4 linked regions of the Homo sapiens genome follow. The protein of the gene in region 3 interacts with the protein of the main gene of each other region in a pairwise test. Each region holds a gene or a part of one and is shown on either strand. Other genes may lie near its edges.

What was found. Proteins that work in one complex are often made in the same cells at the same time.
Region 1: the proteins of REL (region 3) and SPATC1L interact in binary tests that used the Homo sapiens proteins (3 or more experiments, as listed by UniProt).
Region 2: the proteins of REL (region 3) and KRTAP9-4 interact in binary tests that used the Homo sapiens proteins (3 or more experiments, as listed by UniProt).
Region 4: the proteins of REL (region 3) and ZNF76 interact in binary tests that used the Homo sapiens proteins (3 or more experiments, as listed by UniProt).

Annotation. Positions count from the first base shown.
Region 1 is NC_000021.9:46,170,960-46,174,459, forward strand, and holds part of SPATC1L (speriolin-like protein), read right to left. Parts: intron 1-3,500.
Region 2 is NC_000017.11:41,248,388-41,251,153, forward strand, and holds KRTAP9-4 (keratin-associated protein 9-4), read left to right. Parts: upstream 1-1,299; 5' UTR 1,300-1,333; coding exon 1,334-1,798; 3' UTR 1,799-2,266; downstream 2,267-2,766. UniProt on the Homo sapiens protein: In the hair cortex, hair keratin intermediate filaments are embedded in an interfilamentous matrix, consisting of hair keratin-associated proteins (KRTAP), which are essential for the formation of a rigid and resistant hair shaft through their extensive disulfide bond cross-linking with abundant cysteine residues of hair keratins.
Region 3 is NC_000002.12:60,884,574-60,888,073, reverse strand, and holds part of REL (proto-oncogene c-Rel), read right to left. Parts: intron 1-3,500. UniProt on the Homo sapiens protein: Proto-oncogene that may play a role in differentiation and lymphopoiesis.
Region 4 is NC_000006.12:35,276,735-35,280,234, reverse strand, and holds part of ZNF76 (zinc finger protein 76), read right to left. Parts: intron 1-3,500. UniProt on the Homo sapiens protein: May be involved in transcriptional regulation.

The sequences.
Region 1 (3,500 bases), on a different chromosome or scaffold from region 3:
CTCTGTAAACATCCTCTGTGGATGGGGAGGAGCCTCCTGCTCTGTGAACATCCTTTGTGGATGGGGAGGAGCCTCCTGCTCTGTGAACATCCTCTGTGGTCTGACGCTGGGCTCAGGTGTGTTCACTTTCTTTGCTTTCCACACCAAGGGGGAGGGTCCATGCCCACCAACACCTCCTGGCCCCACACCCTCATGAGGACTGAATATTCCCCAACCAGGCTGATGAGGTCATGTGGCATTTCCCCAATCCCTGGCCAAATTTAGCTTATCTATGCCTTTATGGCTTATGAAATTCTATTCTACCTCCATGTCATGTGTATTCTCCTAGCAATAAAGCAAATACATATTAGAGAAAGTGTTCGGAGCCATATCAAAAAATTATACCTTAAAATGTGCCTACTGGAGCTTGCAGTGAGCCAAGATCGTGCCACTGCAATCCAGCCTGGGCGACAGAGCAAGAATCCATCTCAAAAAAAAAAAAAAAAATGTGCCTACAAAGGAACCAACTAATCTTCCCTCTGAAATGTTTTCCAAGGAAAAAAAGTTCGAAAGAAGCAAAGTCATCAGCGTGTGCCCGGCCTCCTGCCACGTGGGAGGCCTGGAGTCCTCAGGCTTCACAGACCCCCCACCCCAGACACTTTTCAAATTATAAAAGAATATTATGTACAATTATGTATTAATTAAAATTTCAATAAAAGGAGATAGCCTGGAAAATTACTTTCAAGTGACTCAATAAGAAGTAGAAAACCTAAATGAACCAATACACAAAGAAGGAAAATCTAAAAGTTATGAAATGATTATTCCCCAGAGGGCTGCAGGCCTGGATGGTCTGTGGGTGAGTGTGCCAAGTTCCCAAACAAGTCATAATCCCGACATCATACAAATGAGGCTGGAACCGTAGAACAGGTTAAAAGATGCTCAATTAGGTTTCAAAATTTGTCACAACTCTGATGTCAAATTCCTACAAAGATAACCCCCAGAAAAAAAAAAAAAAAAAAAAAAACCATGGCCAGGCCAAAAATAATTGCACAAAGTCTCATCCAAACATGATCAAGAACACACAGCACGAGGCAGGAGTGTGCACAGAGCATGAGGCAGGAGTGCAGAGCATGAGGCGGGGGATGCACAGAGCATGAGGCAGGAGTGCAGAGCATGAGGCGGGGGATGCACAGAGTGTGAGGTGGGGGATGCAAAGAGCGTGAGGCGGGGGATGCACAGAGCGTGAGGCGGAGGATGCACAGAGCGTGAGGCGGGGGTTGTGCAGAGCACAAAGCGGGGAGGTGTGCAGAGCACAAGATGGGGGTGGAGAGCATGAGGCAGGGGTGTGTGCAGAGCACGAGGCGGTGGGGTGGAGAGCAAGAGGCAGGGTGTGCAGAACCCAGTGGCTGTGCAGCGTAGCAAGATACCAGATACGGTCCCTGGCAAGAAGCTGAGATACCTCCACTGGTACAGAGATAGGCTCACAAACACCGAACAAGATGAGCCATTTCTCAAATTTTCTGTTTTCCAAAAATAAGAACAGGAAGGACTCTTCCACAGCATCCAGCCTGTGCAAACCTCCCTCCTCTGGGCAGATGGGACCGTTGGTCCTTCCCACAGCTGGTCAGGAGGACCAGGATGCGGCCAAAACCCTCTCTCACCTTCCCTGGAGGAGGCCCCATGAAAGTCAAGGCCAAGGCCCGAGTTCTGAGTAATAAGGACAAAGACAGAAATAAGAAGTTCATGTGGATTGGAAGGGCGGGATGGCCGGCCAGATGCAGCCAGATGATACAGCTCCCACGGAGGGCCTGAGATGACTGGTGAGCTTCTAACACATCTTCAGAGGGAAGGTGCTGAGGGCAGATGGAGGGAGCACACAGAAGCTGGGCTGAAGGGGAGAAAGCTGGGAACCTGCCTGGGACTACTGAGCACTGGTGCTCATTTTTGGACCCACAACAGCTCTGGGGAAATGGGGGAGTTAAACGGGCAAGGAGCAACCCACTGTTGCCATGGGCCTCTGGAACCCCAGCTGGGGGAGACCCCTTGCCCACCATGGACACTCTAGTTGGCAGGGAGAGCTGCTTAGAGAAGTGATGGGGGCAGCAGCCAGCTGAAGCAGAACCCAGAGGGTCTGGTGCAGGAACACAGCCAGGGACGGCCGTCCCCCAGGCTTGATTTGCTCCCACAGGAGACTTTGGACCTAGGGGAACTGTCAGACCTGTTCTCTGCAGGGTGGTCTTACCCATCAGATGGGACCAGTCCAACCTGAGCACCCCTTCGTCTGCTGGCCTCTCCTGGGGCCCCAGCCTGGCCATGCCTGCTTGCAGGGCAGTCTTGGGTGCCCTGGGGGTCTTCACCATAGCTTCTGTGCCAGCAGACTGTGCCTGGCCAGTGGAGAGCTCCAGTGAGACAGCCCCGACGGCCACACACCAGCCTGCCTGCTCCCTCCTCATATTGTAGCTTCCCCTGGGCCCAGGCAACTCCCCACATCACTCTGCTGATGTCTGCACAGGTGGGTTTTGATTTCCTTCCCCCACCAGCATGCAGGAGTCCAGTGGGCCTCCCCTTTCCCTACAGACTTCCATTGCAGGTGAAGCCTTGGCAGACACAGAGCCAGCAAGCCCCATACCCGCCAGAACCCTGCCTTTGACCTAACACTGAGCAGAGAACAGTGGATCCTCCCCCACCCTGAGCGATCACTCCTGCTTGCAGGGCACAGAAAAGGCACCTAGACCTGTGCCAACCAGCACCCCACCCATGCCTATAGTACCTCCAGAGTAACTGCACACAGTCTCCAACAGGAGCCCCCCATCCCCACCCCAGCTGCTTTGCCTCCACCACTGTGGTGAACCCCCACAGGAAGGCAGGCACTCTGCATCTGCCAGCCACTCTGCTGTAGCTGCAGTACCTCAGCCCCCCAGTGCAGTGGATTCCAAACCTCAAGGAGCCAGAGAACAAAGTCAGGGCCCAAAACAAGTCCCCCAGAGCTAGAGCATGCAGAGTCCAGGAGTTGGCAGCTGGGCACTGGCCCCTTAAATATTCCATAAATGAAGCCAGTTGGCTGAATCCACCTTATACCACAATCAAAACCTCAAGGTCATCAAACAGACCAGGCATGGTGGCTCATGTCTGTAATCCCAGCACTTTGAGAGGCTGAAGCAGGTGAATCACTTGAGGCCAGGAGTTCAAGACCAGCCTGGCCAACATGATGAAAACCCATCTCTACTAAAAAATAGAAAAATTAGCCAGGCATGGTGTTGGGTGCCTATAATTCCAGCTACTTGGGAGGCTGAGGCAGGAGAATCACTTGAACCTAGGAGGCAGAGGTTGCAGTGAGCCGAGATTGTGCTACTGCACTCCAGCCTGCCTGGGAGACAGAGCAAGACTCTGTCTCAAAAAACAAAACAAAAAAAAAAAAAAAACAGAATGGCAAGCTAGATAAAGAACCAAGACCCATTGGTATGCTGTCTTCAAGAGACCCATCTCACATGCAATAACACAAATAGGCTCAAAATAAAGGC
Region 2 (2,766 bases), on a different chromosome or scaffold from region 3:
TTAATATACTCAGTAAATCTCCTGAGCTATAGATATATTCTGCTACACTATATGGCTTGAGGGTAATTATCCCTCACCAAATAGTAACTACTTTCTCTGTCTGCTGCTTTGCTTATATGAAGAGTCCAAAATGACTAGGCGATAAAGATTACTTTTGTTTATGCCAAAGAAATAGAGAAGCAAATACTATACTTTTTATTCACATGAAAACTTTAAAAAACCAAAAATTACCTACAGGATTACAACTGATAGAGTGATTAGCTGTCTTTGGGAATGAGTAAGAGCATATAATTGGGAGAGAATGGAATTAATTTCTATTTCCTAACATAGATGTAATGGGGACACAGATGTATTTACAATATAATACTATATCAAGTTGAAAATTAATAATTTGCATTCTTCTCAAATGAATGGTATACCTAGAAAATGTTTTAAACATGTTAGAACTCCATGATGAATCAGGCATCATCTCAACTCATCTAATTCCTTCATTAAAAAGAAATAGAGAGAGAGAGAGAAGACATGCTGCTTACTGTGCTAGTAACCGGGTTGCGACTAGAGCCACAGCACATGCTGGTTGGCCTGAATCTCAAGCATTTATGCCATAGAGAGTCCTACATTCTCATTCTGGAATCGCCACGCTCACAGACAAGTCAGAATGAATGGTCACTCAGGGCATAGATTACTTGATGCTGTCTAAATCCCAGTGGATTTATCTGCATCCACCTGCTCTCGATCTGCTCTGCCACATGGAACACACTGTGACAAACACCCTCTTCCCAAGTGATGTTCAAAGAACTGAAAGACAGGTGGTGTGGGTTGCACAGAGAGATGCCTGCTAGTCTTGAGTCAGAATTTGGTGGGTGACTAGTCTTGGGCCCAGGCATGGATTCATTTTGTCACTGTAAATATATCAGCATCATGCTTCTCCCCACAGACACTTCCCAGTCTACATACAGCCAAACATGAGGCTGGCCAGAGAGAACTTCCTGAGCCTCCCAGATCAACAGGAACTATCACATGACCAGATGATGGTCAGAACAGGAATGATGCTGATGATGAGATTGCCTTCCTTTTATCTGAAACAAAGTGTCTATGAGTAATTCACAATTAAGAAACAGATTAAACCTTAATCTGTTTAACCTTAAGGAAACAACTACCCTTTGAGAATCACAAACGGACTGGGAAAACAATGTAAACGGAAACAAGGAAAAGTCCTGCTGATTGGTGGAAACTTTGGAGGCCAGGTGTATAAAAGGTCCAGATTGCAAGGGGTCATCAGATTCTGGGAAACTCACCTCTGAACAGAAGCCCACCCTCTACCCCTGACACCATGACCCACTGTTGCTCCCCTTGCTGTCAGCCTACATGCTGCAGGACCACCTGCTGCAGGACCACCTGCTGGAAGCCCACCACTGTGACCACCTGCAGCAGCACACCCTGCTGCCAGCCCTCCTGCTGTGTTTCCAGCTGCTGCCAGCCTTGCTGCCGCCCAACTTGCTGTCAAAACACCTGCTGCCAGCCCACCTGTGTGACCAGCTGCTGCCAGCCTTCCTGCTGCAGCACACCCTGCTGCCAGCCCACCTGCTGTGGGTCCAGCTGTGACCAGAGCAGCTCCTGTGCACCTGTGTACTGCAGAAGAACCTGCTACTACCCCACAACTGTCTGCCTGCCTGGTTGCCTAAACCAGAGCTGTGGCTCCAACTGCTGCCAGCCCTGCTGCCGCCCAGCCTGCTGTGAGACCACTTGCTTCCAGCCCACCTGTGTGTCCAGCTGCTGTCAGCCTTTTTGCTGCTGATCAAGTCCCAAGAGAACCACCATCCTCACACAACAACTTTCTGCTCAACTGACTTATCTTTTGGGGGACTAATTTAATTTGCTGCTGACAGCCACCATGCTCTCACCCAAATTTTTATGAATTCTCTACCTGTTTAAAATCTTGGGAATCTACTTGAGGGAGGGCAGAATACTTCATCCTGATTCTCTTTTTCCTTACACTTTGTGGATCATGTGCCAGCTTCGTGTGTTCTCAATTTTGAGTCATGGTCTCAGCTTTGACTCAAAAGTCAAGAGCTTCATTCTCTGCTTCTAAGGAATTTAGGTTTCTGCAACTGATCAATAATCTTTGCAATCATATTTTTGTTTTCAATATCCTCCTCATGGTTCTTGTATCCTTCTTTCTTCTTTTCATAACTTTGGGTTATGTTTCTGCTACCAGCAGAGATTCTTAGCTATATGTTTCTGAATAAACTCTGAACCATCCTCATCTCATATGGTGTTTTGTTTTATATGAAAGCATTCCTGATATGAGATTTACACACATATCACATACCATAGGTATTATCCAATTTGATTCTCAAAACAGATGGTCGTGTGTTATTACCTCCATTTTTTCAGCTGAGAACAATTTAATGTGTGATGTTATGTAGCTAGTAAAGGGCAGACTCTTGTCCAAGCTGAGGTCCTCTCTTTCTGCCCAAGGACACTTACATTTAACTCTCAATATAGTAGAAATGACATTGGAAGTAAGTATTAGCAAGTCATATACTTGAGTTTTTTTAACAATAGGACAAATAATCTCTTATATTTGCAGATAACGTTTTTGTTTACAAAAAATTCCCAATTTCCCACACCTCAGTGAGAAACAGCTGCGTGATATGGCAGCAGGGACTGCATTTAATGGCTGCCCTGAATGCAGGGAGCTCTTTTTGTCTCAGCCTCTGACCAGCCACTCATTCAATTCATCTACATCAAAAAAAGCTTGGG
Region 3 (3,500 bases):
CACCTGTAATCCCAGCTACTTGGGAGACTGAGGCAAGAGAATTGCTTGAACCCAGGAGGTGGAGGCTGCAGTGAGCCAAGATTGTACCACTGCACTCTAGCCTGGGTGACAGAGTGAGACTCCGTCTCAAAAAAAAAAACAAACAAAACACAAAAACAACAACAAAAAAACCCAAAACTTCATTGGTTACATGACACTTCTTTAGATTGTTTACAAAAAGAACAGAAAAGTAGTTGTTGAAAAGATTAAATATTTTTAAATAGTAAAAATTACATAAATATCAGTTATCATATAATATTGAGTATTTAAAGTCCTTGGAATTTATTTTTCCTACTGCAGAAGCTCTTAATTGGTAAAAATTAACAAGCTGGGGGAATGTAGAGTATTACAACCAAGTAACACAGTATACTGTAATACTCTACATTCCCCCAGCTGGAAATAATCTCCCCTCCTTTAAACTACCATAGTATTCTGTGTATAGCAATTATTCCAAATAACTGTAATTTAGGGAAAACTTACCGTCTTATTTCTTCTTGAGATAAAGCTACTTGTTTTATTTCTTCAAGCTACTTGAAGGCAGAAATTGTGTTTAACTCATCAGTGCCTTGTACAGAGATATTCATTAAACATCTATTGAATGAATGACTAAAAAATCTTAAGGTCTTTTGTTTATACAAGTTATTCAAACGTTAAATAATCATATAAGTGATTAGTCAGATTTTTTAATTAGATTCCACTACTAAGGAAAAAAAAATAGTGCTTTATAGGTACCAGGATTGCTACACCTCAGTATTTCCTCATACTCATTCCTATTTTGATTTATCTGTGTTTATGATTTTTAAAAAACTTCCCAGCTATAAATCATTTATATAATGCATCAGTACAATGCACCAGTTATCTCCTTCCTCAGTACTGTGCTTTGCACAATGCCATTCTTCCTGAATATAAAATGTGTTGAAATGTAGTCATCTATGGAGTGCAAGAGGGTAAAACATAAATCAGGAAATTGTAGGGAAAATAAGTACTCTTAACTAAGATAACCTCAAATCGCCACAGTTTTGAAAAGCACCAAAACGTCTCCAAAATTGACTCTAAACAAATTGATTACTGTATTTTTCTTTAAGCAACACTATGCAAAGCTGGGACTGACCCCTATATTCTGAATAGTATTTTAAAAGGCTAATATACATCAGAATAACTTCTAAAATACAGCCAAAATGTTTGTAAGATATATCTATGTTTTTATTTGCGCTTAGGCAAGAAAGAGTGCTATTTTAAAACATAGTGCCTATCTAATAAAGCATGAGCTTTTAAAATAAAAAAATTACATTGAAATGTTTAAATGGATCATAAATTATCGGAAATAGACACATTATTAACAAACACTTTATTGCTAGAATTAGCAACCAGCATCAAGTATACAGAAAAAAAAGCTAATTATTGTAATTATAACATTATTTTAAGACCCCTTTATATACATTTCTCATTTGATCCTCTTAACTTTAATCTCCATTTGAAAAATAATAGAAATTATTATCCCATCTTACACATGATAAAACTAAAGTTGAAAATTATATGAAGTTATAATAAAAATGAATTATGAATGGTATGCTAATATGGCAGTGCCAAATTTAAAAAACAAGCATAAAAGCAACTGGAGGTAATAACTGATACAGCACATAATCTGCAATCTAAAATAAATGCAACTTAATTTAAGAAGATAATGCATCCTGGTATAGCCAAATGAGTATTTAGATCCAAAGAAATCCCTAGAACAGAGTTCATACTGGGGATGTACATCAGAATCACCTAGGTAGTTTTTTCAAAACATACATGTCCTTACCCCACTTGAGATGTTTAGAAGATAAAGAAATCTTCATAGTTTTTAAAGCCCAGATACACGTTGCTGAAAAAGCCTTCCAAGAAATTCTAACACACTCCTGATTAAGAATAATTGTCTTAAAACATGAAGTGGAAGCAACAATGCACATATTGAGAGAAGTAATCTAAAAATTCAGGTACAAATATGGACTGGGACGTGAGTAAATTAGGCAAAGCAATTCTGGCTACTTGTAACTTGAACTTGTGTTTATCTCCCACTTAAAAAAGAACCTTATTCAAATGCAAGCAAGAAAAAATGACAATATAGAGATAACCTTCAAATGCTTTCATTTATTTAAAAAGTAAATAATTTACAACACAAATATTTTAACTCTTGCAACACATCACACAAATGATTGTCACACCAGTGTGTCAACACCACAGTTGAGAATAGCTGACTAGACTGCATGTCTCTCATAAAGGTCCTCGGTGACAGACTTTGCCTGAGACCTAAAGGAGCCAATGGAGCTAACAATATATATTTTTCCAAATATCACCTCTACTCAATTTGGAGAAAAAGAAAATAAGATCTATTATTTTTTTCCTCAAACTAGGTCTCTCATCAGCCAAAGGCTATGCCAATATATCAGGCTGACTTTATTACTCCAATACATCAGGCTGACTTTCAACTGGGCCTTAAGAATCAAAGAAAGGAAATTTTCAGATGAGTATTCAACTGATTTATGCACTACAAGGTAAAAACTGTAAAAGATTCTGGCAATAGGGATTCTGTTACCAAGGGGGAAAAAAGGTAAGTCTTGAAAAAACTCTTGCACGTGCCAGGGTAAAATAAATAAATTTTAAAAGCTGTCCTAGATTATACAGGTATTAAAGTTAAAAACAAATGGCAAGACCAAATCACCTCTGTTTTAAAAATAAAAACAGAGGAGGCCCAGATAAATATGAATTTCAGAAAAACAATTTTATCCCATGCAATATTTGGGTCATGTGCCTACAAACAAAATCATTTTCAGAGAACCCATATGAGAGAAAGTTGGAACAAAATGAAATTCTGAGTCCCTTAAATTGTATTTGAGAAAGATACTATGCATAACCTAGATGTTCCTAATTATGATTCATTGTCTGGCTCCTCCCTAGTCATTACATTAACTCATTCCCTTTATCTGTGCCTATCATACGTCACCTTAATTATTTAACTCCATTGTTATTTCTATTTTTTCATGTGTTGCATTTCTGAAACATTCATGCTCATGTGTGGCATTTTACTTAAAAAAAGAAGTCATTTACTGTAGCTATCCATTCCTAACTTCCAGCTCTGTTATTAAAGATTAAGTTGCCTCACACTTACTTCCATTTCTCCCCTTTAATCGAGAAAAACAACAATTCTCTTGAAATTCACACTACAAATAGTTGGTAAGAAGTGAGGTTTACAAAAACAATTCATTTCTGTACTTCCTTCCTATTGTGTGACACAGAAGAACCATACTAAGAAAAATGTGAAGAAAAATAAATTATCTAAATTTTAAAACATTTTACCAAAGACAGCACTAATTATTAGTTAACAGAGCTATATGCCACACAAAGACATTTTGCTCTTTTTACTGGAACAATGAGAAGGTTTAAATTCAGACATAAAATATCTAATTTTACTTATATTA
Region 4 (3,500 bases), on a different chromosome or scaffold from region 3:
TCATGTTTATGCTGTCAGGGTGAATTTAAAAAAAAAGCTCTCTTCCCACTATCTTGGAGCCTGTAGAGGCCTGCTGAGAACAGGACTTCCAAAAGGCAAATATGGGCGGGGTGTAGTGGCTCATGCCTGTAATCCCAGTGCTTTGGGAGGCTGAGGCAGGAGGATTATTTGAGGCTAGGAGTTCAAGACCAATGTGGGCAACACAGCAAGACATTGTCTCTACAAAAAAAAAAAAATTAGCCAGGTGTAGTGGCACATGCCTGCAATCCTAGCTACACAAGAGGCTGAGGTGGGAGCACTGCCTGACCCCAGGAATTTGAAACTGCAGTAAGCTTTGATCATACCACTGAATTCCAGCCTGGGTGATAAAGAGACTCTGTCTCAAAAATAATAATAAGATAAATACAATACATTTGGAAGGCTGTAGTCCAAGGCCATTTTTTGCTAGCTGTAAGTGGGGCCTCCAGAACCAAAGCGAGGACACAGCTCTTATTAAAATTGAGGTATTGGCCAAGTGCGGTGGCTCACGACTGTAATCCCAGCACTTTGGGAGGCCGAGGACAGTGGATCACGAGGTCAGGAGATTGAGACCATCCTGGCTAACATGGTGAAAACCCATCTCTACTAAAAATACAAAAAATTAGCCGGGCGTGGTGGTGGGCACCTGTAGTCCCAGCTACTTGGGAGGCTGAGGCAGGAGAATGGCATGAACCTGGGAGGTGGAGCTTGCAATGAGCCAAGATCGCGCCACTGCACTCCAGCCTGGGCGACAGAGCGAGACTCCGTCCCAAAAAAAAAAAAAAAAAAAAAAAAAAATTGAAGGTATTTATGCTCGAAATGAAACTAATTCTATTTAGGCAAGAGATGTACTTACATGTATAAAGCAAAGAACAACACACTGACTGCTGGCAGCAAACTGAAGAAAACCAGCATAATCTGGGGAAAGGTAAACTCAGGCCCATGGAAACAGTGGCATGGTTTGTGCTAAATTCCCAAGCAATCTTGCTAAAGCTATTGAACACAGAATCTGTGTGACGCTGTGCCCCTCAAGGACTTAAGCTAATGAAAAGTAAATAAATAAAAGTAGATTTATAAGAAAAAAAGAGTACAAATCTAAACATACCACTTCCTTGACTAAAACCCTTCCATAGTTTCCTACAGCTCTTAGAGTCCACCTTGCATACAAGGCTGGGTTGTTATAAACTCCCACAGCCTAGGTACCACCTTTTCCTAGCACTCACACCTCTGGGCTCAACCTACTTCAGTACTCATCACTATCTGTTTAATGTCCGTTGCCTACACAAGGCTTTGGGCTCTAGCCTGGTTTCTGCGTCACAGTGGTTTCTCCAGCAACTCACACTGTGGGCTCTCCACACATCCTGTGAGTGACTCCCTGGGTCCCTCATGTGCAAGGTGGGAAGCACTGAAGCTTCCTGCTGGCAGGATATCTTCTGTACCCACTGTGGTGTGCAGCCTGCTCTAGCAGTGGACCCCAACACTTGTGAAGCCTGCAGGAAGCCCACGGCCTCTAAACTCAGTGCAGTCGTGAAGACTCTCTTTGACATCCATTCTCAAAATTCTCCTGGACTTGGAATCTGGACTGCCTACTGGATTCTCACGACTTACCAACCGATATCTTTGACTGGTGCTACCCAAACTGTTTTCATGTCAGGGGACCTAGAGAGACAGATATTTGTACATTGCATTGCAGATGCTGCTGCTTAAAGTCAGAAGTTCACATTGCAGATGTCACTGCTTCAAGCCAGAAGCGACCAACTGGGGCTTTGACAGCCCTGAGGGGCGAGCGGATCAATATCTTGGCAAAATTATAGACCATCCAGGAGTTCGAGACCAGCCTGACTAACATGGAGAAGCCCCGTCTCTACTAAAAATACAAAATTAGCTGGGCATGGTGGCACATGCCTGTAATCCCAGCTACTTGGGAGGCTGAGGCAGGAGAATTGCTTGAACCTGGGAGGCAGAGGTTGCGGTGAGCCGAGATCGTGTCATTGCACTCCAGCCTGGGCAACAACAGCGAAACTCCGTCTCAAAAAAAAAGAAAAAAACAAAACAAAAACTGGCTGGGCGTGGTGGCTCACACCTGTAATCCCAGCACTTTGAGAAGTTGAGGCGGGCAGATCACAAGGTCAGGAGATCCAGACCATCCTGACTAACAGGGTGAAACCCTGTCTCTACTAAAAATACAAAAAATTAGCCGGGCGTGGAGGGCGCCTGTAGTTCCAGCTACTCGGGAGGCTAAGGCAGAAGAATGGCATAAACCTGGGAGGCGGAGCTTGCAGTGAGCCAAGACTGCACCACTGCACTCCAGCCTGGGCGACAGAGTGAGACTCCGTCTCAAAAACAAACAAACGAAAAACCCAAAAAAACCTATAGACCAACTGCGACACGCTGATTGGAATGCTCTACCCCAGGCATGGCATCTCAACTAGAATTATTCATTCATTCTGTCCATAAACATTTACTAAATGGGCTAAGGTGCAAGGGCAGCAATACTATTATATAGTGAACACTACTATAGAGTTAACCACGTGCTAGGAATGTCACATACATTAACTCATTTAGTTCTAACAATCCTACAATCAAATGCTATGATTATCCTCATTTAAAAGTGAGGGAACTGGAGGCCCAAGACCAAGTTAAGTAACTTGCTCAAGGTTACACAGCTAACTAGTAAAGGAGGATTTCACCCTAGGCCATTTAATCCAGAGTGTGACCTTAATTACTATGCTGCGAAGCACAGAGGTGAAGCTGGGGGTTTATGAAACTTGAAGCTACTCCAAAATACTTTTTTGGTGTGTGAGCCTTTGCATTTTCCAGGAGAGAGGGAAATCCAAGGCTGTCATCAGGGTCTGATAGGGATTAATGGTGAAGAACCACTGGTCAAGGTGGGGATTCTGACATCTGACATCTCTGGTCTATTAGCATCCTTGCCCAGAGCCCTGATAACCTCCACGTGGTCCCTGTCTCACAAGAGCTCTGCTCCTGGCCTCTCTTGGTCTGCTCTGACCTTCAAGCTTCACTCTCTTCATCAGGTAGATTCTTTGGGTAACCCGCTTTAGTGTAACTGCACTGTGTCAGAAGACACATAAGAGAAACCAGGTCTAAAAACAAAGCAGGCTGGGCACGGTGGCTCATGCCTGTAATCCCAGCACTTTGGGAGGCCGAAGTGGGCGGATCACTTGAGATCAGGAGTTCGAGACCAGCCTGACCAACATGGTGAAACCCCGCCTCTGCTAAAAAAAAAAAAAAATACAAAAATTAGCCAGGTGTGGTAGCACATGCCTAGCTACTTGGGAGGCTGAGGCAGGAGAATTGCTTGGACCCAGGAGGCGGAGGTTGCAGTGAGCCAAAATTGCATCACTGCACTCTAGCCTGGGCAACAACAGCAAAACTCTTGTCTCAAAAAAAAAAAAAAAAAAAAACCCATAAATAAATAAATAAAAATAAAAACAAAGCAGACATAGGTTGAAAAGGGATTG